5 separate regions of the Homo sapiens genome follow, and regions 2, 3, 4 and 5 are each linked to region 1. The links come from fine-mapping of genetic effects on gene expression. A gene starts in region 1. Each other region holds a variant in brackets. All regions are shown on one strand. Distances are between the middles of the regions.

What was found. PIP is the estimated chance that this variant, and not a neighbour inherited with it, causes the effect.
Region 2: its variant is the best candidate, but not a certain one, in a credible set for the expression of TMEM185A in monocytes (Fairfax 2014, PIP 0.89).
Region 3: its variant is the best candidate, but not a certain one, in a credible set for the expression of TMEM185A in whole blood (GTEx, PIP 0.67).
Region 4: its variant is the best candidate, but not a certain one, in a credible set for the expression of TMEM185A in whole blood (TOPMed, PIP 0.80).
Region 5: its variant is the best candidate, but not a certain one, in a credible set for the expression of TMEM185A in whole blood (TOPMed, PIP 0.85).

What each region holds. Positions count from the first base shown.
Region 1 is chrX:149,629,010-149,635,378 of GRCh38, reverse strand. It overlaps TMEM185A (transmembrane protein 185A), which reads left to right and starts at 3,587. Exons shown (of 7, transcript NM_032508.4): 1 at 3,587-3,836. The coding sequence starts at 3,799. RefSeq lists silencers at 3,625-4,034, 4,045-4,094.
Region 2 is chrX:149,650,795-149,657,163 of GRCh38, reverse strand. No RefSeq gene overlaps it. Among named protein-coding and RNA genes, the nearest start is that of TMEM185A, 22 kb to the right of the region's middle. The variant T/AT (reference allele first, on the strand shown) is at 2,863.
Region 3 is chrX:149,405,640-149,412,008 of GRCh38, reverse strand. No RefSeq gene overlaps it. Among named protein-coding and RNA genes, the nearest start is that of IDS, 96 kb to the left of the region's middle. The variant A/T (reference allele first, on the strand shown) is at 2,463.
Region 4 is chrX:149,600,579-149,606,947 of GRCh38, reverse strand. It overlaps TMEM185A (transmembrane protein 185A), which reads left to right. Exons shown (of 7, transcript NM_032508.4): 4 at 2,878-2,961. Among named protein-coding and RNA genes, the nearest start is that of HSFX2, 8.4 kb to the right of the region's middle. The variant C/A (reference allele first, on the strand shown) is at 2,994.
Region 5 is chrX:149,564,673-149,571,041 of GRCh38, reverse strand. No RefSeq gene overlaps it. Among named protein-coding and RNA genes, the nearest start is that of HSFX3, 18 kb to the right of the region's middle. The variant C/T (reference allele first, on the strand shown) is at 2,693.

The DNA.
Region 1 (6,369 bases):
GGAGAAGCACAGGGATACCGTGGTGGTTTGCTGGCCCAGGCAAAGGCTCCCCATTCTGCCTTCCAACAGGAAATGGCCCCTGCTTCCTTTAGCAGAAAGCTTGCTCCATGAGGGATGATAAACCACCCACTCCCAGGGCTACCCTGGGTGACAGGAGGTCCACTGGGGCCTTGGGACTGTCCTCCCTCCCTCTTCTCTCTCAGTAACTGTAATTTGCCTACCTGAGGGAAGACTCCCTGAGGAGGTGGCTCCTTCTGGGCTCTGGAAGGCCATAGGGGTTGCTGCAAGTCCAAGCAGAACTACAGCTACTACCTCTGTGGTCCCTTCAGTTGCCTCCCTGCAATCTCCTCCTCCAGTTCTCCAAGCCCCTAAATCTAGCCCCGTATTTAATCAAATCCCTGTCTAGACTCCAGACCCACCCACCTCCCAGGGAGATCTCAGATGTGTATCCAAGTTAGGCTAAAGTTGCCTGAAACAAAGGGTTCTGTCAGGAAGCAGGAGATTGCATTCTGCAGGTGGACTAATTCCCAGCATCTTCAGCAATTCTCTAATTGGTGGCATTCAAAGTGTGGACTTTAGGGAACCTAGGGTGAGGAATTCCAGGCTAAGAAAGCCTTGCAGGCTGGCACCTCCATGTTTCCTGGCTAAAGAACTTGTCAATCTGACCTCCGAGAAGCTCTTTATAGTCCCATAGGCCTTGCACGGGACTGGATCCCAGCTGGCCCTCCCTCCACTGGAGCAAGGGTGAAACTGGTGTTGAGTTCAAATCTACTAATTCCACACTCTCTCCATTCTACTGCTGCAGCCAGGGAAGGAGCCTTGGTGGTGTGTGGAGGGCGGTTCCACGGCCATTTTCTTCCCCTATGCCAGGTCTCCCCAGTCCAAGTGTCTAAATTCACCAGGATTCTCTTCACCAGTGCCTTGCTCTTCAGAGGAGAGGCATCCTATATCACCACATTGAAGCCAATGTGAATATTGAATTGGACAAGCCACCAGCTTATCAGAAGGGTGGTACAAATCCAAGTTAGTCCTTAAAACCATGGTCAGATATACACTGATTCTTCTGGAACACTGTAACCTAAGCCCACCCCAAAGTCACCAAGAATATGCTGTCTGGCTTATTTGGGGGTCATACTTTTTCAATCCAGAGCCATTTCTTTCCTTTGAGTGAAGAATGTTGGGAGCCCCTAGCAAGATAGCCCTGGAATTTTTTGGCAAGTCAAGGAAAAGATAAAGTCAAACTCTGCTAGTGGAGAAGATGTGGGTGTCATCTTCTCCACTAGTCATACTTAGCCTTGATGTATCACCTTTCTTCTGAGAATGTAGAAACATTTAATAAGTGGTAATTAAGCTTCCCAGCACTCCTGGTGCCTGCATATGACCCAGGGTCTTTCTTTAATGTCAGGATCACTTGTGGGTCTGTCTACACAGGTCATTGAGGCTTTGGACCTCCATCTAGGGTGGGACACTGAGTGAGGGCTCTGAAGTGAGCAGCAGGTTGTCAGTAGGGTCTTTTGCACTTGCTGGAGAGAGGACCAGATGGCCATCTGGTTTCTGGCTTTTTTTTCCCCATGAGAGCACCAGTAGCATAAAGGGTTGGGCTTCCAGAATCAGTCCAGGTAATCCACCTCTTGAAGACTGGGGATGTGAAGCCTTGGGAAAGTCCAGTTCTTCCTGTATTTCCTCACAGACAGGTTCATATGTTCCTCTTGGCAATTTACCTTGTCAGAGCAAAAGAACACACTGACAAGTAATTTGTGCATCAGTGTCCTGTTGCCTTTGCTAGATAGCTTCCAGGGCCTGGTCAACTCTGGAAGAACTGCTAAAATTGAACTTGTGGGCCTGCAGAGCAGTGGTTCAGCTCCCAGACTCCCTGGGATCTCATTAAAGTAGCGTCTGCCCTCAAGATTCTGGACTCTGAGGAGCCTGCCTGGTCTCTATCTATGAAGCTCTTGAAAGGGCAGTGATGCCTGTTATTCAAGTGTCTGAACTGGCAGACCATCTTCTCATGCCTGCTTGGGGCACGGTCACTGGTAATGAAGATGGTGCTGTCCAATCTGACCACTGGCAAGCACCTCTTTCTAACAGTATGGGCTGCAGGTTCAGCTAGACCCTGAGTTTCATCTGTGCTCCTTCACCCTTACTTGCTGGCTCGCTCAGGGCCTGTTATACAAGCTTCTCTGCGCCTTAATTCCTCGTCTGTATTTGAGTGTTCATTGAGAACCTCCTCTGGGCTACACATTGGACTTTACCCAGAGGATGGGAAAGGAAGATGGGTGAAAAAGTCTGGGACAGGGTCCTGGTGCTTCAGCAGATGAAAACTTGATTTGGATTACTCAACCTTAAAATCAGCTCATATAATAATATCCATTTCCCAGTGGGTGTTGGGAAGCTTAATTACCACTTATGATATGTTTTTACGTTCTCAGAAGAAAGGTGATACATCAAGACTAAGTATGACTATCGCAATTGTGATTCTCTCAAGCTGCCCTTGGGGCTAAACAGTATAAAATTGTCATTTGTGAAACTCTGCTATTGCAACAAAGGATGACTATTATCCATAATGATAGTAGACTAATGTTTAAGGCATTGTTGTGCTCATGAAAACTTAAATCTGCCCAAAGTGAAGATGGTAAACTAGGTCACCTGCTATGAGCTTGTCCTGCTCTTGGATTCCAAAAGCAAACAAAATCCTTGAGGAGGTTGACACCTGAAAGAGTACCAGATAGCAACAGCATTCTTTGTACACCTAGCATGTACCAGGCAGTGTGTTATGCACACGATCTCACTGAATCTTCCTAACACGCTTAGAAAAGAGGTTTTTATCATTTCCATTCTGCGGAGGAGAAAAACTGAGACTCAAAGATGTTGACTTGCCCAAGGAAGATGAACCTGGTACTTGTAAGTAGGGCAGCCTGGAGTGGAGGCAGAGGTCAGGTGTGAAGTGACCACAAAGTTTAGACAGGATCCAAGGAGGCTCTGAACTGGGTTAGAAAAATGAGGATGATTTCCACGTCTCCTGCTTGAATACCCCCCTGCGTACGAATAGGCCTGCTGCTAAGGGAAAAAGGGAACCCAGGAGGGGAAGGCGGTTGGCACGGGAAGTGACTTTGGTGCTAGGTAACTTGAGTAGGGAATAGCCAGCATATCTGGACACGCTGGCTTGGGAATTGGAAGGGAAGTTGGGACCCAAACTTTGGAGTCGTTGACAGATGTGACAGGTGAAGCCTGGGATGACATCGCCAAAAATGCAACGTCTCACTCATTGTCACTACTCCCAGGGCTCAGTCGTCACTGGGGAAAATCTCCAGAAGGTAGCGCGGGCCAAGGTGACAGGTGTCTGCCAAGATCTGCCCGCCAGACTCCCGGGCGGCGCGCTCCCTCCCTGCAGGCCTTCAGCCCGTCAGCATCCCCTTCCTCGGGGCCCTGCTCACTCCCAGCCTCCATCCCCCTGCCATCTCCTCCGCCGGTCGCGTGCGGACACAAGGATGGGGACCTCCCAGCGAGGAGCGCTCTGGGCGGGGCTCCGGACGCATGCGCGGCCCTCGTACGGAAGCCCGGAAGGAGGGGCAGGGGGCGGTGGCTCAGGTTTCTCCGGGCGGCGGCGGCGGCGGCGGCGGCGGCGGCGGCGGCGGCGGCGGCGACGGCGACGGCGACGGCAGCGGGGACGGCAGCAGTAGCGGGAGCAGCAGCGTGGACGCGGCTGGCGCTGGCGCCATGAACCCGCTGTAAGGCGCAGGCTGTGCAGCACGGGGTGCGGGGGAGGAGGAGGAGGACGCCGCGGTGAAGTTCTCCGCCATGAACCTGAGGGGCCTCTTCCAGGACTTCAACCCGAGGTGAGGCGGCGTCGTTGGCGCCCCCGGGAGTCCGCGCTGCGGGCTCGGGCGCGGGCTGGTGTTCGGCTCCGGGGAGGCACGGCGGGCGAGATGCTGCAGCCCGAGGACCCGGGCGCCTGCCCGAGCCTCCCTGCGGGTGCAAGCGGTCCCCAGGCAAAACAGTCGGCCTCGGCGCCCGCCCGCTTCCTCCTCCCGTGCCCGGTGCTTTCAGCCCCTGCCCGGCCACGGCCGGAAGGGCCCGGCCGCGAGCCCCGTCCTGCCCCAAGGGAACCCCATTCTTTTCTGCTTGCTGTCCCTCATTGGTGTCCCAACTTCTTCGTCTCGGTTCCATCCTCTTCTGCGCCGCTGCGGGCCCTCCATTCTCCGCGTCAGGGCCGTCTCACTCGACCCAACACCCCTACCCCCACCCCAGCTGTTTCCTCCAGTTCCTCGCAGTCCTTGGGGTTTTCCTTGGGTTTATGCCCATCCCTCTCTTGTTTGCTTCTTTGTTGAACGGATACCTGAAACACTGTTGAATCCTTGGAGTCAGTGTCGGGGTATGGCAATACCTTATATAATGCATTTCTGGGTGAGCCTGATCATTTTCCATACTCATTTTCTCATCAGTCTTCACTACAAGTTTATTTGCAGGAAGTAGATATTGCTGTCCTTCTTTTCCAGATGGGGAACACCCAGTGGACAGTGTGGAGAAAACACTGGCTAAGCACTCAAGCGCCTGTCCTTGCACTTGCCCGACTGTTTTGTAACTGTTCTTTACCCCAGGCTGTGAGCTCCCTGAAGCTGAGACCATCTCCTGCTCATCTCAGTGTCCCCAGCGCCTCCCACCCACCGTATCTGGCACATAGTAGGCACATATAAAATGTTTGTGGAACTAAACTGAGCCCAAAGACTTGGATTGGAGACGAGGCCATATGTAACTGGGTGATTCTCTGCCCTTCTTTGGCCCTTCTGTAAAATGAGGAGTTGGCCTAACTGATCTCTTAAATGCACTACTCTCCGAAAGGAGTATCCGTTTCCCTTATTTGCCAGTTGGGAAGACGTGCTCAGTAAATATTTGTGTGCTGTAACCTATGTTAGGTGCTTTAGATGCTGGCGGTCTCAGCATGGGGTGAAGAAGGGCTTGTACACTTAAGATGCCTTACAGTACTGTGCAGTGCTGTACTGCGGGGGCCAACTCTGGGGACCTATGCCTTGGCTGCTTGTTGAGGATGAAAGGAAGTTTTAGGGGAGTATTTGTATGTTGAGGGTGCAGTCTCCCTAGGGATGGTGACATTTTAACTTGTGAGTCATTGTGACTTTGTATGTGCTCTTATTCCACTTTGAGTTCATGTTCTGGTTAGGAGTGCCAGTGTCTCTAACACGGTGCAGACATTATCATTGTTGGCTTCGAAGGCATAGAGGAGGTAACAGAACTAACTGCAGTCCCTTCCTCTGCTGCATCAGGGGGTTAAGATTGGTCTGCAGGGTAGTAGGGTTGGTGCTGTGGCTGGACAAGCCCTGTATGTCTTCTATTTGGAGATGGTGATAAGAAAGTTAAGTAAAAACTGAATTGTTTTGTGCCCTTGGGCAACTCACTTATCTATTGTTTTATCTGTAGAATGAGTATAATCTCTCAGTGGGGTAGGGAGGCCAATTAAGGATTGATTACAAAGTGCCTTACAAATAGAAAGCTACAGTGACTTGTTTGCAAGGTGACAGAGAATTCAGAAGCCTCAAGAAACTGCCTTAAGTGATCAAACAGGCTAACGGAGTTGCCAAAGCAAAATAGTGCTGCACTGATACTACCTTTAACCGTTTTTTCCTTTAGCCCTTTTCCCCCCAAAAAAATTAGTATATGAAATTACAGTGAAATACCTGGTATCTAAGCAGATTTATAGTAATTCTCAACATATTCATCAATCTCTTAATTCTACCTGCATTAAAATGTATTTCTACCTGAAAAGTTTAAAGGTCTTTTATACTGTGCCATTTTCCTGATTCATTGTTGCCAGAGGTAGTGAGTTCCTTAATTTTACAGATATTTCAAGAGGACATTGGCCAGGTATTATTGGTAAATCAGATTTGTTTTTTTAGCTGGTAGTGTTTCACCTCTCCTGAGCACTCCTAGTTTTTGACAGTGTGCTTTAGTCTCCTTCCATGCTGAGGAAGGCCTTCTCTATAGGAGAAAGAAAACTGAGGGGTGTACACAGGAAGTTACCTTATGCTGGGGACTCAAACCTTGATGCTACTGCTTTGCTCCCTGCCTCTATTTTTGAACCAATTCAACATCTCCCTCCTACCCCAGGACCTTGTCACACACTGTTCTCTTTACCAGGAATGTTTCCCTCTCTTTTCCTCTCCTCCAGACCTAGTGAACTCCTATTTATCCTCACTTGGCACTTGCTAAGGGAAGCATTCCTGACTTCCCTGACCAGATTTACTGCTCCCTGTTTCTACAGTTCCTGTAGTATTTACTACTCCTCCATCATAGTGCATATTTGTACCCTTGTGTCTGTCTGGATGCTTATTTGATTAATACCTGCCTCCCCCACTA
Region 2 (6,369 bases), 22 kb before region 1:
CAATTTTTACAATGGTATTCATAGAAGGCCTCACAGAAGAGATATCTCGAGAGAGAACCGAGGATGTCTGGGAAGGAATGCTAACAGTATTATAAGAGCAATCGTCTAGAAGAGAACAAAGACATGCAGTCGCTCGGGGCCTTGGAACAGAGTGTAGAGGGCAGGGTCTAGAGACACTGGTCTGGTGAGCCAGGTAAAGGGTATTCCCTGATCCTCTGAGCCATGGACTGCCTCAGAGCCAGGTCAGCTGCACTGTACCATGAACTGGCTTCTTGGATCCAGGTTTCTATTCCAGGTTACTGACTTGACCTGAGGACTGGGTACAGAATACAGGTCTAGGTGTCCAGAAACCTTTCTCTCGGGATAAAGGGGATGGAAGGCACCATTGGCATTGAACAGGCAAGGCTGTTGGCCTGCTGCTGTGGCACTGCTGCGGCGGGCAGGACAATGGTGCACGTGTAAAGACTGGGTGCAGAACAAAGCAGAAGGCTGTCTGGTGACACCTAGTGCTCATTCCAGAGTAGACTCTGTGTCTTCAATGAGGGGCCAGATGTCTTAATCCAGGACTGGATTTCCTATCTTTCAAAGTTCACCTCAGGTGGAGGCCAGAAGCAGGTTTGGCTTTTTGTTGGGGGGGAAGGTACACATAGGAGGCTCTTTGTGCTTCCTACTGTACTCCAGCAGGAGGCATACAACTTCTGGCTGTTCAACCCTTGATCATATTGGCTCTGATCAGTGGGCTCAGGTGGAGAGGTGGAGACAGCCTTGTTCCTCCATTGCAGAGTGCGTCATCAACCCTTCAACAATGTTTCATCCATTGATTAGCATGGATTGCATCAGTTGCATTGCTGGATATTGCAAATACTTGTTTTCCTTTTCTCTCATATGTTGCATTTTCCTCAGCTGGAATTCTCCAGTAAGGAAGAAACTTTCCTCATCAACTGTAGCTATTGTGTCATCCTGAAATACAGTTAGTACAGGAAATGCAGGATAAATGTTTTATTCTCTCTCTTGCAGAGCCAATTCTCAATGTGAGGGGTGGTTATTCTTGTTCCTTCCAATGGGGTCCAACAAGTCATTCTTTATTAATGACTTTTTATTTTAGAAAATGTTTAGGCTTACAGAATTATTGCAGAGATAGTACAGAGAATTCTCATATACCCCACACCCAGTTTTCCCTATTACCATCCTCTTATATTAGCATTACACATTTGCCACAATTAATAAAACGGAAGACAAAAACAAGGACACTAGAGGAATCTGAAGCCTCTGGCATCTATAGGTATAAGAAATAAAGCCCAACTCCCAGCCAAATTGACATACATCCTCACTGTAGAGATCTAATTGCCTCTGTTCCTATGACCTCATACAACACGTTCACTCTCAACAAAAGGATTGCAAGGGACACACGCAAAAGAGTAAGAAAATACATAGTCTGAAGAGACAAGACAATCAACAGAACTGGACTCTAATATGACTCAGATATTGGAATTAGGAGGCAGATAATTTAAAATGACTATTTTTAAAAATTTAAGAGGCTTTAATGGAAAAAGTAGGCAACATGGAAAAACAGATAGGTAATGCAGGAAGAGAAGTATTGCGCTCAGCAAAATCCAGAGTATGGGAAACTGGACAGAACACAAGGCATGTCTTCATTTTCAACAAATGAGTTTCAAAAAAAGGTAATGTGGGGGAATCTATAAATTACTTAAGGTGGCTATTAAGAACATAAACACAATGTATAGATCATATTTGCAAACCGATTCAAAGAAACTGCATTTTAACAGGAGCATATGTCCACCAGATACATGTGACAAATAAGTGAACATTTCATTATATTAATGACTTGCTTACATGTTTAGGAAAGATAATAATGTTGGCTTTATGTTTTATAAGAGAGTAGTTATCTTTAGAAATGCACTCTGATGTATTTGGAGATGAGATCACATGGTGTCTTGGATTTGCTCCACATTATTTCAGTTTCTGCTATGCGGAGTAGGTAGGGGTATAACTAGAACCAGATTGGCCATGAGTTGAAGATTATTGATACTGAAAGTCTGGTATATTAGATTAATTATAGTATTTACCCTATTATTAGGTGTATTTGAAAATGCTTGTAATGAAAATATTTTTGAAATAAATATGATATTTAATTTGAAATCCTAAGTGAAATGGATAATATTTTAGGAAAATAAGTACATGAACAAATTGATACAAAAAGAAATTCAAATCTTTAACCAAACAATAAAAAGTGAAACTAATCTAAGCTCAAGCCATCCTCAAATGTGGACAAGGCAGCTTCGGAGGCCAATTCTACATTGTTATCAGGTAAAGCTCAAAGCCACCTTAAGTAAACTCTTCCAAGGCATACGAAAAGTTGGGCAATTATTCAAATTATTTTCCCAAGCTAACCATTCTTCATTCAGGTACCAGAGGAGGACAGCACCGTGAAAACACTTGAGCCAAACTTCACTCACACAGAGGCAAATATATTAATTAAATTAGTAGCATATTCAACATAGAAGTGAATTAACGGATTGTGTCCAAGGAACAAAAACATGATTTAATATAAAACAATTTTCAGTTGTGATTTCCTACGTTATCGAATTAAGATTTTAAAAAGTGATCACTTTAATAGGTATAATAGGTACAGAAAAGATTCTGGAGGAAATTCTACAAGAGGTCATGGTCAAAAGTTTTAGCCAAATGAGGTTAGAAGGAAATTAGCTTTTCCTACGATCACTGGCCAGCATACCCAAATATGAAATGTCAGAAGAATTATTGTCATAGGACTATGCTATAACCTCTATCTTTGGAAATTACACTGTAACATAAGGCCAGAGAGGTGGATATAAAAAAAAA[T/AT]CAGTATAAATATTGAACAGATTTAATATTTGGTACGACAATATGATTATCTAGAAAATTCAAAGAATTGTGCAGATGGAATAGTCAAATAACAGACTTCAGAAAAATAGTATACAGAAGATTACTACAGTAAAATCAAAATCCTTGCAACCCAAATAAATAACTATTCAGAACAAGTAATAGAAAATACCCCATTCACAATGGCAACAAAATCTAGAAATTATCCAATGGAGACAGACAAAGCATACAAGATCTTTATGGAAACAACTATGCAAGTACTGATAGAGTTAGGTCAAAAAGTTCCCAGATAAACAGAGCCGTATTCTATATCCCTTAATAGGGAACAGACTATTGAAAAGATATCAATTTTTCTTATTCAAGATTTACAGATATAATGCTTAAAATTTAGCTGCCAAGATGAATGTCAGGCTTGGACTTCTGCCCTCAACTACCAAAATCAATCCTGGAAAACTATAGAAGAAAGAATAAAATAAAATAAAAAAACAAATAGTATCAACAACAAAATCTAAACAACAAAGCAAAGCCCTGGGGGAGAATGAAGACTGTGTTTAACTGGTACCTGTAATCGAAATGGCCAGAGTGTCAAGGAAGTTAGGGAGAGTCCATAGCTGGCATAGAAGGAAGATGACAGGATGTGTAGAAGGAAATGTTTAAATTTTTGCCCCTATTCCAGTGTGAAAATGTCAGGTGGCACCTGAGACCACAGGTGCCAGTAGTCTGGTTTCATTGAAACAGTAGTAGCTCCAGTCTGTGCTAATAACCACCTAAAACCACATTAATAGGTGAATTGGCTTAACTGAACATAAAGAATGGATTACAAATAGAGTGTTGAGCATTAGAATGAAACAGGCATAATGAGGTTAAGTATGATTTCTGATGCTGAATGAAAGTTTAAAAATGAAAATCACTGCACTGAGCTATGAAATACTCGATAATTCTAATGGCAGGAATCCCCAAATTTCATGCTGCTGCTCAGCCTATTTAATGTAAAAACAAATATTTTAGGAAAACAGGTTTGCAAACTCGACCTGTGGCTGGGGAAGAGCTTCCTTGGGAAGGTGTGTGTCTTCTCCCAGAGGTCACTACAATCACAGAAGCTGCCGCTCTGCAGGGAGTACCTGGCCTGGGACCCGCAGCCATTCTCTGCAAGAGATGCAGCTGGGCAAATGCTCAGAAGTGGCAGAAACAGAGTATCTCCTGCCCATGGCTTCATCAAAGATCCAAGAGCCAGGAGGAGGATCCTCTTGAGTGAGGACTGAGAGTCCACCCTCCCCTTGTAGAGGAACCAGAGAATCCAGCTCAGCCCCTTCTAACAATCCTGGAAGATCCTGGCAATGTTGTCGCCCTGAACACACGCCTCCCACCACTGCCACCTCAGGGGACTGGGAGTCAGAGACTTGGTGTGAAGGGAGCAGACCCAATTGGCAGAGGGCAGGGTGTCCAGGCTCTGCAAGGAATCAATGTCAGGACCCTAAGGGAAGCTTGAGGGCCCCTATAACCATTCCTACCCCCATGCCTGGAAGAATCCAGTTCCGCTGCTGCTGTCGACCCAGGGAAGCCCCAGGCTTGGGGGCCGGATGTCACGCCACTGACGTGGCCTCAGGGGTCAGAGGATAGCAAGAGCGCCTCGCTCTGAGTGGCAGCTTGAGATTGGTGGAGTGAAACAGGCCCCGGCTCTGTGAGGAGGCAAGGTGAGACACTGAGGAAGACTGAGGATGCCCCTACCCCAGAGAGAGGACCCCAATTAACCCAGTGCCACCCCTGCTGCCAGCCCTGGGCCACCTGGGGGCAGACTTCTCAGGCTGGGCCGCTCCCGGCTCCACTGCCACTTAAGCCGCAGGGCATTCTGGAGACAGAGCTTGGTGTGACCAGGGAAAGGCTGATTAGGAAAGGGCAGGACCCATGCTCTGCCTGCCAGGCATCATGGTCCAGACCCTGAAGGAGGGCTGAGATCCCACAGAGCGAGGCTCCATCTCTGCTGTCAGCCCTGGGAAGTTCCGGGCATGGTGGACAGGCATGTGGATCCTGATGTTCACATCGGGGGCTGATGGAGGGAAGGGGCTTGGAATCATGAGCACGGCCTCAGGGGAGCAGAAGGTGGGTCCAGGCCAGGCTGGGAGACAAGGCAGGCCTGAGGGGACCCAGCAACCCAGAACAGGGGGCCTACTCCACTTCTTTCTGAGACTGAGGCACCTTCTCAATTGGCCTTGGGAATTTGAGGGATATAGATTCAGGTCCACAAAGGGGTGAGGCTCAGCCCTGACAGGATCAAGAGGAGGAAGAAGAGGGAGGACTCAGAGGACCTCGACCCTGGGAGGTCCTGGGAGTGCTGGCTGTGTGTGGCACATCTTTGCTGTGTCTTTGGGGTGCCAGTGACGAGAGGGGTGTAATATGAGGAGTAGGGCCTCAGGCCAGCAAAGAGAGAAGTCCCCTAGAGCCCTGAGAGAGGACTCAGCAGACCTGTTATCCTGGACCTAGGAAATCTGCCTCTGCTATCAGTCCTGGGAGGCCCAAGGCAGGCCTGTGGAGAAGGGACATGGTCCCCCACTTTCTCCTTGGGGGTCCCAGGAAGATGGTGGCCTTGGCACACAAGACTCATCCACAGTTGAGCAGGAGCGAAAGGGCTGGGCCCTGTCGGGAATAAATCTGAATACCTGGAGGAACGCAGACAGAGGAGGCACCCCTGAAACCTGCTCCTTCTGTCAGCCTTGGGAATCCCGTGCAGAATTTTCCGTGTGGTGCCCCCTCACTTCTTTCTCCCAGGTCTCAGAGAGGTTTGGGCCTTGGTCTGAGGCAGTGTCCTGAAGTCATACAGCAGAGGAGGCCCAGGTATTGCCAGCAGGCAAGGTGAGGTGTTTACTTTAAATGTATACAAAGGGCTCCACCGGCCCCAGAGCAGAGGGGACTCCAAAGTGCCAACCCACCTGTCCTACTGTTATTGCTGGAGCCGTGGCTTCTGCTGACAAGCTGCACCCTGAGGAGCCCTCTTGTTAGTGGTGGCAGGTACCCAAGTTACCCTGAGTTACTGGTGGTGTATCCATATAGGTCTGCGGCAATTTCAGTTCTTACCTCCTCAGAAGAAAGAATTCGACTGAGGGGCCAAAGGCAGAAGGAAAGACTGAGGCAAAAAACAAACAAACAAACAAACAAAACACAAAGCTTTAGAACAGTAAGGAAAGGAAGGAAAGGAAACAAGAAAAGTATAACTCGGAAGAGGGCCAAGTAGTCAACTTGAGAAACCAAAGTCACAGCTTGACCTCTTGACTTGGGGTTTTATGTTGGCATATGTATTAGTTTTCACATTGCTGATAAAGACATACCCAAGACCGGGCAATTTACAATAGAAAGACGTTTAACTGGACTTACAGTTCCGTGTGGCTGGGGAAGCCTCACAATCATGGCAGAAGGCAAGGAGGAGAAAGTCACATCTTACATGGATGGCAGCAAGCAAAAAAAAAAAAAAAAAAGCTTTTGCAGGAAAACTCC
Region 3 (6,369 bases), 220 kb after region 1:
TAGATCCTGTAGGTCATTGCTTTCAAGTTTAAACTTTCATAGTCCACAGGCCATGGGAAAAATCCAGCCAAGCTCTTTACTAAAGCATAACATGCTTGACCTTTGCTCCAGTTCCCAATAAATTTCTCATTTCCTCCTAAGACATCATAAGCCTGTCCTTCACTGTCTGTATCTCTATCAGCATTTTAGTCATAACTATTTAATCAGTCTTTAATAAGTCTCAAACTTTCCATCATCTTCCTGTCTGCTTCTGAGCCCTCCAAACTCTTCAAACCTCTGTTTTTTTATCCAGTTCCAAAGTAGTGTCCACATTTTCAGGTATCTTTGTAGCAATGCCCTACTCCTCATTACCAACTTTTTGTATGTGTTAGGCTGTTCTTACATTGCTATAAAGAAATAACTGAGACTGGATAATTTACAAAGGAAGGAGGCTTAATTGAGTCACAGCCCATCAAGCTTTACACAAAGCATGGTGCTGGCATCAGCTCAGCTTCTAGGAGGGCCTCAAGAAGCTTACAATCCTGGTAGACAATGAAGGGGGAGCAGGCATCATACATGGTGAAAGCAAGAGTGAAAGACAGAGAGTTGAGGAGGAGGTGCCACAAGCTCTTAAGTGACTAGATTTTGTGTGAACTCAGAGAGAGAGCTCACTTATCACCAAGGGGATAGCCCAAACCATTAATTAAGGATTCGCCCCTTTGATCCAAACAACTCCCACAAGACTCAATCTCTAACACTGGGGATTAAATTTCAACATGAGATTTGAGCAGAGCAAATATCTAAACTATATTATTACTTGAACTCTTGTGTTTTCAACAAAAAGTTATGTGACATAAAAGAAATAAGAATGTATGACCCATATACAAGTATAAAAGCAATCAATGGAAATAATCCTTGAAGAAGCCCTAAAATTGGACTTACTAGGCAAAAGCTTTAGATCTCCTATTTACATATATTCATAAAGCTAAACTTCGCCATGTCTAAATCACTAAAGAGCAGTATAAGAACAATGTCACAACAAATAGAGACCATCAGTAAAGAAATATAAGTTAAAAAGAGCCAAATAAAAATTCTGGGGTGTGAAATAATTGAATTGAAATAATTGAAATGAAAAATTCATAAGGAAGGCTCAACAGCACATATGAGTGGGCAGAAGAATAAGTAACCTGAAATTAGTTCAATTGAGATTTTCTAGTCTGAGGAACAGAAAGAAAAAAGATGAAGAAAAATGAACAAGGCTTCAGTGACTTGTGCAATAATAGCAAGTGTGCCAAAATATGCATAATGGAAGTCCCAGAAGAGGAGTGAAAGAAAGATGTTAATATAGTATTTGAAGATACAATGAAAAAACATCCCAAATTTGATGAAATTAATCTGCCCATCCAAGAAGCTCAATGAACTCCAAATATGAGAAACACAAATAGATCTTCACCAGTACACAGCATAATAAAATTATCCAAAGACAAAGAAAGAACCTTGAAAACAGCAGGAGAGAAGTGACTCATCACTTACAAGTGAGCTTTAATGAGATCAACAGCTGATTTCTTATTAGAGACCATGGAGGCAGAAAACTGTGATAACATTTTCAAAATGCTGAGAAAAAATAAAAACTACTGTCAACCAAGAATTCTGTACACAGAAAAACTGTCATTAAAAGACAAGAAAGTAAGATACTCCCAGGTAAACAAAAAGTTGAGAGAATTTGTAACTGGCAGACCTTCAGACAGAAATAAAAGAAAACTAGATTGCAACCTAGATCCATATAAAGAAATTTAAAAAACTGTTAAAGATAACTATGTAGGTGATCTAAACCAGTATAAGTGCATTTTTCAGTATAATACCATTTCTATTCTATTTGACTTAAGACTACTGCATGATGTGATAATTATAAATCTAGTTGAGAGTCACACAAATATAAAGATATAATTTTTGACTATATTAGTATAAGAAGGAAAAGTTCCACAAAGGAGTAAGGTCTTTGTACACTATTGAAATTAAGTTGGAATTAATCTGCACTAGAATTTTATAAATTGATATGTTAAGGGTAATCCTCAGGAAAAACACTAAGAAAATAACTAAAAAATACACAGTAAAAGAAATGACAGCAAATAAAAATTGTACACTATGAAATATATATTTAACACAATACAAAGCAGTAATGGAGGAATTGAGAAACAAAAATAAATTACATATAGAAAATAAATAGCAAAATAGCAGACATAAATTTTGCCTTATCAATAATTACATTAAATGTAAACAGATTAAACATTGCAATTAAAAGGCAGAGATTTGCAGAATTTAGTTCAAAACTTTATCCAGCTATAAGCTGTCTATAAGAGACACTTTAGGTTCAAAAACATTAATTCATTGAAAGTAAAAGAATGAAAAAGATACTCCTAGACATGGATAAGCTGATCCTAAAATTCACATGGAAATGCAAGGAACCAAGAATAATTTAAACC[A/T]TTTTGGAAGAGAAGGAAGTTGAAGGATACACCCTTCTTTATTTTAAGACTTACTATAAATCTCCAGTAATCAACAGATATGGTACTGTCTTAAAGATAGACATATAGATCAATGGAACTGAATTGAGAAGTCTATGGTAAAAATTATATCTATGATCTATCAACTAGTTTTTTTCAGTGAATGGTGCTGAGACAACTGGACATCCACATGCAAAGAAGGATTTGAATTCCTCCCTCACACCATATAAAAAAATTAACTCAAAATATATTAAAACCTAAATATAAGCACTAACATTATATAACTCTTAGAAGAAAACAAAGGTATACAACTTTGTGACCTTGAACTATGTAATAGTTTCCTGTATATGACACCAAAAGCACAAGCAACTAAAAAAAGTAAATTGGAATTCATCATGAGTAAAATCTTTGGCATATCATAATTAAAGTCTTTGAAGAAAATTTTTGCAAATTGTATATCTGATAATAATATAGCACCCACAATATATTTGTTTTCATATTTACTCTTATCTTTATTGCTTTCCTTCTGCTAAATTTGAGTTTAGTTTTTTCCTTCCCTTTCTAGCTCCTTGAGGCATAATGTTAGGCTCTGTATTTGTAATCTTTCTTTTTATAATGTAGGCATTTATTGATATGAACTTTCCTCCTAGAACTGCTTTTGCTGCACATCATAGGATTGATATGTTGTTTTCATTATCATTTGTCTCAATATATTTCTAAATTTCCTTTTTAATTTCTTCTTTGATTCATTGGTTGTTCAGGAGCATACTGTTTACTTTATATATATTTGTCAATTTTCCAAAATTTCTTGTTATTGATTTGTAGTTTCATACTGTTATGATTGGAAACAATACTTGATGAATTTAACAGGTAAACAATTGAAAAACAATTAAAAGGCAAGGCAATTAAAAATGGGCAAAGGATTTCAATAGACATGTCTCCAAAAAGAATACACAGGGGCCAGTAAGTACATGAAAGAATGCTCAACATAATTAGCCATCAGGGAAACACAAATCAAAACCACAATTAGGTACAACTTTGCAACTCCTGGGATGGTTGTAATTTTTGAAAATAGAGGAAAATAAGTTGTGTTAGTCTGTTTGGTCTGCTATGACAAAATACTTTTGATTGGGTAACTTATAAACAAGAAAAATTTATTGCTCACAGTTTTGGAGGCTAGGAAGTCCAAGAATAAGGCTCTGTCAGATTTTGTGTCTGTTGAGGGCTCACTCTCTGGTTCATAGTTCATGACTTCCCACTGTATCCTCACATAGTGGAAGGGGGCTAGCTAGTTCCCCAGAGTTATTATTGTAAAGGCACTAATCTCATTCATAAAGGCAGAGCCCTTATCAGCTAAACACCTGCCAAAGGCCCCAACTTTTAATACTATCACATTGATGATTAGGCTTCAACATAAAAATTCTGGGGAGACATAAACATTCAGTCCATCTGCACAAGTGTTGGTGAGGATATAGAGCAATTGGAGTCCTCATGCATTTTTGTTGAGAATTTAAATTGACACAGCCACTGTGAAAACCAGTTTGGTAGTTCCTCAAAATGTTCAACACAAAGTGGCCATATGATAGCAAATCTGGTTTTCACTCAAGATAATTTAAAACATGGCCACACAAAGACTTCTACACAAATGTCCACAAAGCATTATTTGTAACAGTTAAAAGATAGAAACATTCCAAATGTTCATCAACTGAAGAATGGATAAACAAAATGTGGTATACATACAATGGAATATTATTCAGCCATAAAAGCAACAATGTACTGATACAAGCTACAGTGTTGATGATCCTTGAAAGCATTATGGTAAGTGCAAGAAGCCAGTCAAAAAAGATCGCATATGATTCCATTTATATTTGATGTCCATCAAATCAAGACTACAGAGGCAGAAAGTAGATTAGTTGTTGATTAGAATGGGAGAGGGAGAGGAAAGAGAGTAGAAGGATGATAACTAAAGAGTTCAGGGTTTTTTTTTGAGGTAATTAAAATGTTCTTAACTGGAGTGAGGATTGCACATATCTGTGAACATATTACAAACCATGAAGTTGTCCATTTTAAATAAATAAATTGGATGATATGTGAGTTATATCTCAATAAAGCTGTCATAAAATCAAAAGAAAAACATGTCTAGACAAAATACATATTGATTTAGGCTTCTGCTTTGGCTAGGATCTAGCAGAGCATTGAGACTGTTAGTCCCACTGGACTGTTTTCAATGGAGGAAAGAAGATATTTACAATAAAAAACTGAGGTGCTATTATTTAAAGAAGGTGGGGCGAATGTATAAACTCCTCCAGTAAATTATAATTTTACTTACAATAAAATCCTAATATGTTACCATAGACTACTAGGTCCTAGATGGCCCATTTTCACCTGCCTCTCCAATTTCATCCTCTTCTCTTTCTTCTCCTTCTTCTTTTTGCATCTCCTTGGACACTTTAAGGTCATTTATGCCTCAGGGCATTTTTATCTGCTGTTCCCTCTACCTGCAATGCTTTTCCCCCAGGTATTTACACAGATTTCTTCTTCTCATCATTCAATTCTCAGATCACAGGTTATCTTTTGAGAGAAGCCTTCTCTGACTACCTCATCACAGTTGCTGGCCATTTTACCACTTTGTCTTCATAGGCATTATTATTATTTGATAACATTTTTATTATACTTATGTGTTTATTTTTGTTTTTCTCACTCTCATCCAATAGAAGGTAAACCCTATGAGAGCAGGAGCCATGATTATTCTATTCAGCAAGATAGTCTCAACCTCTGGCATATGGATTAGCACACAGTATAACTCAGGAAGTGTTTGTTAAATGAACTAGTGGTTTAAAAGCCCCAAACTTATCAAAAATAACCTCCTTTCTGTTATTAAAAAGAAATGTTATTACATTTCTTTTTAAACAGAGCAGTGGAAAGGAAAATAGGCATTGAAAAAAATCCTGAAGGAAGTTAAATCAGTGCTGTGAATGGGACCTAGGGAGCCACTCTCTGGGAGGCTGTGGCCCAACACATTTCTTCCCTATTTATTTTCACACTCTCAAATTCAATCCTTTCTGTCTCTCTCTTTGTAATGTAGACACATACAATAGGTAGTTAGCTGGGGCCTCATTTGCTGTATGTTTCTTTTTTCATGAAAGCAACTGTCCACATCACTGTTCATAGGTTAACTCAATCCCTTCTCTTTCTTCAAAATATTTCTAATTTGTGCCTGTTTATACTGTGCTACCTGGTGTTAGCATGCATAAAATAACTTGGTTGCCACCCCTCTCCTAGAGACGTCTTAAAGCTTCTGAAACAGAGTTCTAGTGTCCATGGCTATCTTTGAAATGGTTACGGGGTCATGGCTCAGAGGCTGCAGCCAACCTGAGAAAGGCAACACAAGAAGGTGTGTGACAGATGACAGATTGCTGCTGCTGAGTTGGTCCTGAGCCCTGGCCTAGCCCTTGGTGCTGAATGAATGAGTATCAGATGCCCACCTGCACCAAGGGAATTACAACACATAAGCACACTCATTCATGGGTGGTCCAGTGCTGAATGCCTTTCTGCATTGCACTACTTCTCTATCAGCAGCCTGGTCACGCATGAATAAACAGTTACTGGCTCCAGTCAAACCTGGCAGCTCATTGGAAAGGTGGAAATGTGCTGGAACTCTATTCTGGGAGAGACTTTAGGTAATCTATACCAGTAGGGGAACAGCTACTAAGCAGTTGTCTTGGTGTTCACTAACCATTTAAATGGGAATTACCTTTGGATAAACCAGTGAGGAGATCCTTGAGCCAGGAAGTCCTTGACTCAGAATAGGTTTCTTTTTGTCCCAGCCACAGGATCTTGGAGACCTGTAGACCTATTAAACCATAGGTCTATGGATGAAATTTTTGGG
Region 4 (6,369 bases), 28 kb after region 1:
GAGCATCCATGGATTTTGGTATCCACAGGGGGTCCTGGAACCAATCCCCCACAGATACTGAGGGACAACTATACAAGGACTAGGACTGCATTGGGCCTGAATTACAGAAAGTAAGTCTTTCATATATTCACACTCTAGGCATTCCTGCCCTTGGAAGAAACAACATACCAGGAGCTGAGCTCCCTCCTCCTGTGATGCAAGAACAGTACCTATGTTGGTGAGGGGGTGGTCTGGAGTAGGCTCATACAGAGATGGGAAGGAGGAGTTGAGGGTCTGCCAGGAAGCCCTGTGTTGGGAGGGAAGGGATGGCATTTTTGGGACACATTGAAGCCTAGAGGCAGGAAACACTCCATCAGCTGAGTGGACTGTGGCGATTCAGATCCGACGGGAGCACAAGGTGGAAAGGAAGGAACTGTGGGAGTTGAGAAGAGAGGGAGCCTCTACAGAGGGATTGGGGCAAATAGGGGCCACGTCCTCAGCCCACAGAGCATGTGCTGAAGTGCCCCAGGCACCCCAGTGCACTCACAGGGCACCAGGGGATAGTGGACATTTTGAGGAAAACAGTAATACCTGACATTTGTTGGGACACCATACAAACTACTAGCTTGAAATAGTTTACAGGTTTATTTTTAGGCCACACTGCATTCCTTTCAGTGACGTCGTATCTTTAAGAAGCTGGGTTTTCAGCAGTTGCTGTGAAAACAAAAAAGGCTAATGCTGTGTGAAAATCCGGGTGAAGAACAGGTAACGAGTGGGAGCACCTTGTCTGATTCCAAGGCGTGGGAAATGGTGAGCTACCTGACAGGCACACGCATCCCACTGGGAATTAGTTTTGGTTATTTAAGAATAATATTAACATTTTTCTTTAGATTTATATGAATTATTTTTTCTAGTGGCTACTTAGAAATACTTACTAAGTTAGATGTAATTACTTAAATCAGTGCAACTGTTGGCATTCCCAGCCACATTAGGGATTTCTTTTGGCCTAGAGGTCTATGGAGGAATTACTAAATTCCCCATGTACCTATGTACTGAGAACTTTTGGGAAGCTCTGGGCCTGGTCCCAGATTTCAATTTTGTGGGCAAGAATGTACTTTACCAGAGTGAGGAGCAGCCTGCAGGGCGTTTGGGCTGGAGGCGGGAGGTTAGTAAGGGGTTGCTGAAGTGGTAGGCGGATGGTGCCGAAGAAGGCCTCACTAGGCAGTCATCATCAGGATAGGAAGTGGGCACGGGATTCAGGAGAAATCTGGACTTTACAGTGGACAGGATGTGGTGACTGAACGTGACAGTGTGGGAAAAAGAATGCAGGGTGATTCCCGGGCTCATGGCTTGAGAAATGAGACCACTGTTGTGCCTCCAAGTGACATGGGAGGCTATAGAAAGTGACATGGGAGGCTATAGAAAGTGACATGGGAGGCCATAGAAAGTGACATGGGAGGCCATAGAAAGTGACATGGGAGGCCATAGAAAGTGACAAGGGAGGCCATAGAAAGTGACATGGGAGGCCATAGTGACATGGGAGGCCATAGAAAGTGACATGGGAGGCTATAGAAAGTGACATGGGAGGCTATAGAAAGTGACATGGGAGGCCATAGAAAGTGACATGGGAGGCCATAGAAAGTGACATGGGAGGCCATAGTGACATGGGAGGCCATAGAAAGTGACATGGGAGGCTATAGAAAGAGGAGATACAAGGTTCTAAGTGCAGGCGATAATGATCTCTATTTGGGACTGGCTTCATTTGAGGTGCCTTTAGGAGAGCCGAGTGGCCTATGCACAGCTGGGTCTGCTATGCAGCAGGAAGGCTAAGTTGGAGACAGATGTGAGAACTAACCATGAAGGAGGTAATAATGCAGACCAAGGGTCTGGTTGAAATTTCTTCTCCCCCAGTCCAGGGTGCAGCGGGTGAGTGAAAATATGTGTGTTTGTGTGTCTGTCTTCCTAGTCGGGAGAGAAGACTGAGTTTGTGGCTCTGCGGAGCATCACCATTTAAGGAGGGGGAAAAGGAGACAGAAGGAATTACCAGAACACTCCAGAGGGCTCCAAGACTGTATGGTGGGATCTAGATGGCCAGGAGGAGGGGAGCAAAAAGGAAAGAGTCATCCACAGTATCAGTAGGATGCCAGTTGAAGTGTTTTTGCTGCCTCCCGGTTATCGGTGACTTTGATGAAAGCTGTCTTCTGGTGGTCATGGGGGTGGAGGCCAGATCACAAGGAAGCTGGGAATGGTAGATGAGATAGTAGGGGCTTGCATATTCATTACTGTCTCGCAGAGAGAAACCTGAGGCTAAGAGGGGTCTTGGATCAAAGGATGGGGTGGGTTTATCTGGTTTCGGGGCTTTTGTTTTTAATGAGAAGGAGTCATTTCTGTGCTGCTAGGAGGGATCAATGGAATAGGTGGGGTTAAAGATACAGTACGGAATCTACAGTTGATGGCTTGATGTGACAAGGTCCTCAAGGAGCCTGAAAGGAAGGGGTGGGGTCCAAGGGCAAAACCGAGGTATGAGAAGAAGGATGCACAAGGATGGTTTCGAGTAGACAGTATTGTTGGTAGGGACATGAAGGAAGTTTAGTGGTCTATTGCAGCTAGCCTGTGTTCCCAGTGAACCTGGAAACAAGGTTCTCATCTGTGCTCAGGCCTCAGGCCAGAAAGGGCAAGGCAGCAGAGGGGCAAGGCAGCAGGCTGAGCCCCATTTCCCCTTGCCATAATACTGCTGTGCCCCTCTGGTACCGAAAATCAGGAGTTTCCAGTGCAATATAATATTATACAAGTTACACTGTATTATAATGTGTATTGTCTTTTAGTGTGTTAACCAAATTACTGCAGTATTAAATGCAAATTATACTTTGTTTAACTGATTCTTCTCTTCATTTTTAGTTAGAAATCCTGTGTTCTGTCAACATTCTCCAGTTTATATTCATTGCCTTAAGACTGGACAAGATCATCCACTGGCCCTGGCTTGTATGTAACTTTTAAAATCCTTAAATAAAGTT[C/A]TTTTTTATTATAAAAGTAATTCATATTCACTGTACAAAGCTTGGAAAAGACGGACAAGCAGAAGTAATAGCCTAATAGTCACCCATAATCCCACCATGGGGAGATAACATGGTTAGTGTTTTTATGTCTGTGTTTTATACAAACAGTTTGGATATAACTGTGTGCACCATTTTGTATCCTGATTTTTTTGTTTTAATGTTGTATCATAAACATTTTATCATGTTAATAAAAGGTCTTTATAAACATGACTTCTAAAGTTTAATTGATACAAAATATTCTTCAAGTGCATGTATCAGACCATCCTCTTATTTCTAAAATATGGTATTTCCATTGTTGCCAGTGTTGAATGATTTTAAATCATACTGCAGTATATATGTTTATGCATTAAAATTTTTGCCTTTTGTTTTTTGGTTGTTTTCTTAGGAAATAGTCCAGAAATAGTGTTACTGAGCTAGAGGTTGGGAACTATTTGAGATTCCTATATACGTATACTGCACTGCCAACTTGCTTTTCCAAAAGCCATACCTGGCCAGGCGCAGTGGCTTACACTTACAGTCCCAGCACTTTGGGAGGCCGAGGTGAGCTGATCACTTGAGCTCAGGAGTTCGAGACCAACCTGTGCAATGTAGCAAGACCCTGTCTCAAAAGAAAAAAAAAAAAAGCCATACCCATTTACACTCTTGCTGGTGGTGGCATCTATGTCATGCTTCTAAACTGTGACTTCAGTTACTGGGCATTTGGTTGAAATTAACTGTGAATAAATGGGTAGATGGATGCAGAGATAGAAAGATAAGTGGCAAGGTAGAAATTAGAGAACACAGTATAGATTCCACTATTAAATGCATGGAAAAAAGATGGAGACTAAAGGCAGAAGAGTTCCATTGCCACTGGGAGGTAAGGTCATGCTAGTGTTTTTGTTCGGTTTTATTTTCTCTGTTGTTTGATGTATAATTTTGCATACAATATATTTTATGTATTAAATATAGCTACCCTTAAAAAGTGAAAAGTATAGTAAAGAATTGGGAGCAGAGAAGAAATGAAGGGAACCTAAGTATACTCCATATTTAAAGATGGGAATAATCACTTCTGCCCAAAGTCTTTGATAAAACATTCATAATAAAAAATATTCAGTCACTCATCCTACAACTTCACAGTGCTGTATCTGGAGAATGGTCATTGGGTTCAAAACTGTTTCTGTTGTGACGTGAAGGAAACATATCTAAACAAGACCAAATTTTTTCGTATAAGATACTGTCAGGGAAAAAAAAGATTAGTAATTTTGAGAGCTTTCCACAAATGAGAAGAAAGATTTTTTCTGCCCTTCATCCTCTGTAGATCCCAGTTGATGAAGCAGTCTGAGTACATGTTTCCCATAGTGAGCAAGAGAAAACAAGGAAGCCTATTGAGATCTAACATTCCACCCATGAAGGGAACTTCAGTAAAAAGGAGAATCTCATCACAGAATGGGGAACGGGGAAGAAAGGCTGTGCATAGACTCTGCAGAGAAACCTACAATCAAGAACTGGTCAGGAGAAGTAAAATTCGTATGCCAACTCAAATCATAGATCTAAAAGAAAATGTAAAACTATAGATCTGTTAGGAAATAACATAGGACAGAATCTTTGGGGTTTGCAATTAGGCAGAGAGTACTTAGAAATGGCACTGTTAATATGGTCCATACGAGAGAGAAATCATAAATTTGGACTTCCTCAAAATTAAAATGAAATGAAGACAGGCCACAGACTGGGAGAAAATATTTGCAAAGCACACATCAAAACACTGACTTGCACCCAGAACATACAGAGAACTCTTAAAAACTCAAAACTGCAAAAAGAAACACCTAAAAATTGGCAAAAGAGTTGACAATTTGCGAAGGGGATATACACATGGCGAAAAAGCACAGGAAAAGATGCTCAACGCCATTACAGGTTAGGGAAGACAAACTACAACCAGGATGAGGGCCCGAAACACATGGCTTCAGAATGGTGAAACTCAGCAACACTGACGAGGCCACGTGCCTGGGAGGATGCAGAGGAACTGGGACACTCCAGTGTTACTGGCGGGAAGGCAGGTGGTACGGGCACTGTAGAAAATGGTTTGGCCATCTCTGATGCAGTTAAAAGCGCACTTCCCGTGGGACTTGGCTGCCCCACTCCTGGGTATAAGATTTACCCCCAGAGAAGTGAAAGCGCGCAGCCTTGTAGAAACCCACACACCAGTGTTTGTAGCAGTCTTGTTTGCATTTTGGATAGCGGCCTTGTTTGGTTTTCACAAACCACCCTCAGCGGACAGTCAGATAAACTGTAGGCATCCATACAATGGAATACCACTCAGATCTGAGAGGGAACGACCTGTGGATACAGGGAGGGAACAACTTGGATGAATCTCATTAGAGACATTATGTGGATGGCGGGAAGCCAGTCTCAACAGGTTACTTGTCTCGCGATGCCATCTACATAAAGTTCCAGCAGAGACAAAAGTACAGTGAGAGAACAGATCAGTGTTTGCCGGGGCTAATGGTGGGGACGGTGTGATAGTGAAGGGACAGCACGGAGAGTTTTGCAGGGTGACAGACCTCTTCTGCATCCTGCCAACGGCTGTGTGAATCTACTTGTGTGAAGACTCAGGGAACTCACACCAAAGGAAGACGGTCACTTTTCCTACTGTATGATAGATAATTAATAAAAAGGGAGAACGGAGGAGTGTCGTCCCAGGAGGCAGGGCAGGAGGGCGAAGACGTGTCACAGGGGAGCCTGGCCAAGTGGCGCCCCCGGAACTCGTCCTCTGGGCTTGTGTGTGGATGAGACAAGGTCTACCTGGTACGACAGGGACATACTGGGAATGCGCCCTTGCCGTGGAGGCGGGGACCCGGCAGCGCTACGTATCCAGCATCAACCTGTATCCAGCATCAACCCGCCAAGTTCACTAACTTGGTAGGGGTGAGGTTAGGGATCCTTAGGAGCCCAGGCAGCCAGACTTTCTGGGGAGCCCATTCCCATTTGTGTTGCCAAAGTACCCCCAGCAGGTTGTGGGAATGTTGCCTGTGAAGAGAGTCTGTTGGGGTGAGATCTTGTGTGTGTGCACAGGGTGACAGTTGTGTCCCATTTCCCGGGAAGCTGTGATGGCAGCAGAACCTAGAGGAGCCTGAGAGAGTGTGGGAGAGTGGGCCTCTGGAAGAGTAGAGGCTGCGGAGCCAGGTGCAGGGCTGTCTGTCACCCAAAGGAAGAGGGACTGATGACTCACTGAGCGTGTGTGTCCCCTGGTGGCAGCAGGCCCCATAGTGAACATACCATACCTTTTCTGTCCTGAGCGATGCTCCCAGCAGTCCTGGGAGATGGAACGGTCCTTATTCGGCTCACAGGAAGGACCGCCTTA
Region 5 (6,369 bases), 64 kb after region 1:
TAAATTGTTCTAATTTTCTCCATTATCTGGCTGCAAGTCTCATACTAACGGGAACTGCTCAGGTCCTCTGTAAGCTGCAGCTCAACATCTCATGTAAACGTCAACAAACAACCCTCCCGCCTGATGTGTGAGCCACTCAGAGAGTTCACCACAATGCCTGAAGCCATAAGCAGACTTTCAAGCTATAAGCCAGAATGAGAACTCGATGACTTCATCCTGTAGACAGCTTCTCTGAAGATGTTGAAACAAGACTCCCTTTCACAATGACATCCTTATCCCTCTTAATTTTTTCTTGCTTATGCTTCCCTCTTTCACTTGGCAAGATAACACCTGTATGCTAGACCTTTGAACGAGGTGGGGGTTAAGGGGACCGACTCCCAATGCAGTCAAAAATCTGTGTATAAACATTGAACCCCCAGAAACATAACTACTATTAGCCTGCTGTTGACTGGAAATATTATGGATGAACACATATTTTGTGTTTTAAGTGTATTATGTACTATATTTGTACAATAAAGAAAGCTAGAGGTAAGAAAGGGTTATTAAGAAAGTCATACAGAGGAGAAAACATATTTACTGTTCACTAAGTAGAAGTGGATAATGATAAAAATCTTCATTCTCATCAACTTCACATTGAATAGGCTGAGGAGGAGGAAGAAAAGGAGGGCTTGTTCTTGCTGTCTCAGGGATGGCAGAGGCAGAAGAAAATCCATGCATAAGTGGACCCATGCAGTTCAGACCTGTGTGGGTCCAGGGTGACATGTAGTTAGAATTTTACAATGATCAGCTTCCATAGAACATTGGATATCCCATGCCAAGCCCATATCTTTACATGACCCAAGACATTCTTTAATCCACCCAGTGGCTAAATTTAGAAACATCCTTGATGCAATTGTTTGTTTAAACTTTGCTAGGGATCCCTTTTATAGTCAGACTTCAAGATCCACTTGGCCTCACTCCCTGCCTCAGTTTAGCCCGTGATGGGATACTAGATCATGGAACTGCAACCTTCTAGCTCAACAGGAAGGACTCTGTGCAGCTGCTAACACTTTCTTTTGTACGTGGATGAGTAAGACAAACAGGCTGGTTGGTTAGAATGGGTAGATTCCTCATCTGGCTCATTCTTTGGTCTGCTCAGTTTCAGTTGGTTTAGCTCATGGGAAGCCTGCCTAAGGGGCTGTTTTCAGAGCCCCCAGCCAAACTGAAGTTCTAGTACCAGAATATCTGGTGAGGCTGACCTAACTGGAGATGGAGGGGAGCTGATGGTAGGTTTTCCAGTATGCCTTTCACAGGGTAATTCTTGTGCCTGGCGGACAGCCTAATAAGTTTATTTTCCACAAGATTTGGTTCAGGAAAACTACCAGGTGGTTTCACATAACTGGTTTCAGTGAGGGCCCTTAGAACCCACAGTGGAGAAGACAACCAAGCTGTCTTTTGGGGTTCTTGATTTCAGAACTTGGCTTTTGGACGGCATTTTTAGACCTGTCCTGGGCCAGGAGGGAACCCACTATCCTGAAGTCTTACCAGATTTGCTTGGCTTATTTGATCATGCAAGAGAATTACATATGAATAATTAGGTCCCCCTGCTCACTGGCTCATTTTTTCTCAAAAGATTCATTGAGCATCTGCTATTTGGAAGGCTTAGGTTAATAGTAGAGATGCTAAGGTAAGCCACATCCACCCCTAACCTTAGGGCGGTAGAGTCTAGGATCTGCAGTCACATAATTAAAGTGGCTAGATGTCTTCTAAGATCTGGAGGGAAAATAAGAGAGCGGTGAGGGTGTGGAGCAACAGGTGAGAGTATTAATAGTTGAGTGTACATGCCCTGAGCCAAAACCTTTTGGACTTTGGGAAACTGTAGTTCCTTCTCGGGGAGCTAATTGTAATGAAGCTGTGTGGTGCCAGAGCCAGATTCTCAGGCATGAGAGAAAAGCCTGGAATAGAAAACTGCTCAGCAGTTCCTTTTGAATAGTGGATAAAGCAGAGAGGAGTTTCCATCTGGGGCAGGAATGGAAAGCATTCTGTGCTCCTGTTCCAGTGAGGTGGAACACAGCACAAGAGCTAGGTGATGGATACGCATCACCTGCAAGTGTTTTCTGAGAGATAAGGGTGAATATCCCTGGAAGTGAGGCCCAGAAGCCACTGGACAGGTACTCTTCTGCCTGGCTGGGAGCCAAAGCTGACTCTATTAAAATGACATTCTAATTAGGTCATCTCAAGTGCCATTTGGCTAATTTTAGCAACGGCTAGATTTTGGGTGGCAATGAAATGAAAAAAAAATAGTGGTTTGGATGGAAAAGCAGCGGGCAGAGAAGGAAGGAGTTGGTCCTTGACTCAAATTCTAGGAGCTGTGAGCTGCATCTGGCTTGGGAAAACTCCCCAACAACCAAAGTTTGAAGTATGTCCTCTAAGAGGAAATATTTACTGAATTTTATAGATGAAACTTCATTCTTTGACTGATTATTCCATGTCTTACCAAGCTGTATATTATCTGATAAGTCCTGGAGAACAATGACAACAACAACAAAATCCCAGAGTGTTAAGGCCTGGGGTAAAATAATATAGGAAAAAACAGCCATTCGCCGTTCTTTAAACTTGTAATTTACGCCAGGCCCTGAGCTAGGTGCTTCACTTGCATGGCACACACTCCAACAGTCCTAGTGGAAAGGACTTGTCACACCTGCTTCACAGA[C/T]GTAGAGCTTGAGGTTCACAGGGCTTGGGTATTTCCCAGAATCCCGTGGCTACTAAGGGACAGGGCTGGAAAGACCCCTGGTCTGAATTCCTCCAGAGCCTATGCTGTTCCCCCTCCCCCCAGCCTGAGCCCCATCTCCTGACTGCATCTTCTCAGCACTGCGCCATGTCTCTCAGGTGACAGAAAGAACCCTGAGACCAAGGTACTAAAAGCAGGTCTACAAAGGTGACAATGAGAATCAAACACCATTAGGGGGTGGCATGTGCTAAGTCCCCTGGGAGCTCATGGCTGAATGCTTTCTGTTGAGCACCTACTATGGGTGCTCATCAGGTTGTGGGAGAGGCTTCAAGTGCTCATCCACATCTTGCATTCCTGTCCTTCCTGGGCACATGGGACAAGTACACTCCCAGGATTTGTTTCTGGCCCCGACAGTTTCTCGTGTCACAGCACCCTTTCTCAGTCACCCTCATGTGCCCTCCCTTCTGACTAGGGGAACTGGCCTGCTGTCCGGTCTTCACTGCTGCCTCCCCTGGAGGCTGTGCAGAATCACCTCCCCTCCCTGGGACATGGAGTAATCCTATCCCCTGCAAAAGTCCCTTGACTCTGCCACCACACACCCTTGGTCTTGTCTCACAGCCACAGCCACCCTGGACTGCAACTTTAGACGCTTGGTATTCCCTCTGGGAAATCCTCTGCATACTGTTTGTTTTCCCAGTGGGCTGCAAGTAGAGTATGATTTGAAACATAATTTCCTGGTTCTTAGGGTACAGGCCTGAAGGTAGACAGAGAGTTTGTCCAGTCACTAGCATATTTGCAGTTTTATTTTAATGACCTTCTTATCTGAACCTGGGGACTGAACGGGCAAACACAGGGACAGGCTTTCTTAGGTGCTCAAAACTTCCATCCCCTCATAAGAATTCTAAGAGGAACAGCGATCAACTGAGTCTGAATTCCTACAAACCCTGGGCTTCTCCCAGGAGGTGAAAAATGGTTCCATGATTGACATGCCAGCTAGAATTTGAAAAGAATAATTAATCAGCCTTCCACTGCCTCCTGTCTGGCATCTCTCCCCAGGAACATACTGGCTTTCAGTGTGACTAGTGGTGCCTGTACAGGTGTTCAGGCAAGAATGGTTATGTGGAAGGTATCAAAGACTCTGAGCAAAATTCTGCCCCTGCATCAGATGGAAGGAGGAAATCTTCGGCCTCCTGAGATGACAGATGGCACTGCAAAAGGAAGTGCAGTAAATGCTATGGAGTGAAGAAGGTGAACTCTTTCTGCTGACCTTTACAGGATGCTCTTCAAATTGGATGGGCTAATGCATTTGAAAACAACTGTCACGGCCAGGCGTGGTGGCTCACACCTGTAATCCCAGCACTTTGGGAGGCCAAGGTGGGTGGATCACGAGGTCAGGAGTTCAAGACCAGCCTGGACAATGTGGTGAAACCCCGTCTTTACTAAAAATACAAAAAAATTAGCCGGGCATGGTGGCACACGCCTATAGTCCCAGCTATTCAGGAAGCTGAGGCAGGAGAATCACCTGAACCCAGGAGGCGGAGGTTGTGGTGAGCCTAGATCACGTCACTGCACTCCAGCCTGGGCAATAGTGCGACACCGCGTCTCAAAAAAAAAATCTGCCACATAGTAGGCACTTAAAAATTAAGACAATTTCAAGGAGAATCTTGTCTTCTCAGAATCTTCTCTAAAGAACGAAGAGTGTTATCACAAGAAAATTATAGTTTACATATACTTTCCTCTATTTGAAGCTTTGTTCAAAGTCATTGCTTCTGAACAACTTTTAGAAAAAAATTCTCAGATTGATGTCAGACATTTCAACTAGTCTTATCTATTTAAAGAAGTAACTTTTAGAGGCCAAGGTGGGCAGATCACCTGAGGTAAGGAATTCGAGACTGGCCTGGCCAACATGGTGAAACCCTGTCTCTACTAAAAATTAAAAAATTTGCCGGGTGCGGTGGCGGGCACCTGTAATCCCAGCCACTCGGGAGGCTAAGGCAGGAGAATCGCTTGAACCCGGGAGGCAGAGGTTGCAGCAAGCTGAGATCGTGCCACTGCACTCCAGCCTGGGCGACAAAGTGAGATTCTATCTCAAAAAATTTTTTAAAAAGTAAATTTAGTTCCATCAACCTCATTTATTATTTTTCTATAATTTCTGAAATTTTTTATTTCCCTATCTATATCATCCATATATATATATGTATAAAAAATATATATACATATATTTCTTTTTTTGAGATGGAGTCTTGCTCTGTCACCCAGGCTGGAGTGCAGTGGTGTGATCTCGGCTCACTGCAACCTCCGCCTCCTAGGTTCAACTGATTCTCCTGCCTCAGCCTCCCGAGTAGCTGGGATTACAGGTGCCCATCACCACGCCCAGCTAATTTTTGTATTTTTAGTAGAGACGGGGTTTCACCACCTTGGCCAGGCTGGTCTCTAACTCCTGACCTCGTGATCCACCCACCTTGGCCTCCCAAAGTGCTGGGTATCATCCATATATTTTTGTTGGCCTTAGGTTAATTTACTTTTCTTTTCTCATTATATAAGATCAAAGTTTAGATTTTTTGTTTGAATCTTTTCTTACATTCTAATACAAGCATTTAATGATATAGGCACTACTTTACCTGAATTCCACAAATTTTTAAACATGACATTTACGTTTTAATTTATTTGGAAATATTTTCTAACTTTCCTCAAGAATTTTTTGAAACATGGATCACTAAAAATATGTTATTTTAAAAAATACAGGTATCTCATTCGTTATATTTTTTATTTTATCCCATTACAGATTTTAAAAACATACTTTGTACATATTCAATTATTTTAAATTAGTTATGGGTTGATTTATGATTTATTTTGGTAAAACTTCCACATATACTTGAAAATCTTGTATATTCTGCTGCTTTGCTGTGGCGCATTCAGCAAAAGCCAATCAGCTCGAGGTGGTTCATTTTGTTGTTCAGGTCTTTCCATAACTTTGAGGACTTTCTGTCTAGTTCATTTATCATTTACTCAGAGAGGAGTGTTGGAGTATCAAAATATGATTGTAGATTTGATTATTTGTCCTTTCAGTTCTATCAGATGATGTTTTGTGTATTTTGAAGCTCTGCTTTTAGGTGAATTAACAGTTAGGATTATTATGTCTTACCTGTTAAGTGACTATTTTTTATCATTGCATAATGTCCCTATTTATCCATGGCAATTTTCCTTCTTATAAAGTAAAAAATTAAGTAATATAGTCACTCTAGCTTACTTTTTAAATTTTATTCTGTAAAGTACCAAATACTAAAATATCAGGCAAAATTCACTCCCGATATTTCACGTAGGTTCTTTTCTGTTTTCCCTAAGTGTCGGCTGGTCTGAGACATAAAGGGAAAGAGTACAAAAGAGAGAAATTTTAAAGCTGGGTGTCCAGGGGAGACATCACATGTCGGCAGGTTCCACGATGCCCCCCAAGCTGCAAAACCAGCAAGTTTTTATTAGTGATTTTCAAAAGGGGAGGGAGTGCACGAATAGGGTGTGGGTCACAGAGATCACATGCTTCACAAGGTAATAAGATATCACTGGAGGCAGGGCGAGATCACAGGACCACAGGACCAGGGTGAAATTAAAATTGCTAATGAAGTTTCGGGCAGGCATTGTCATTGATAACATCTTATCAG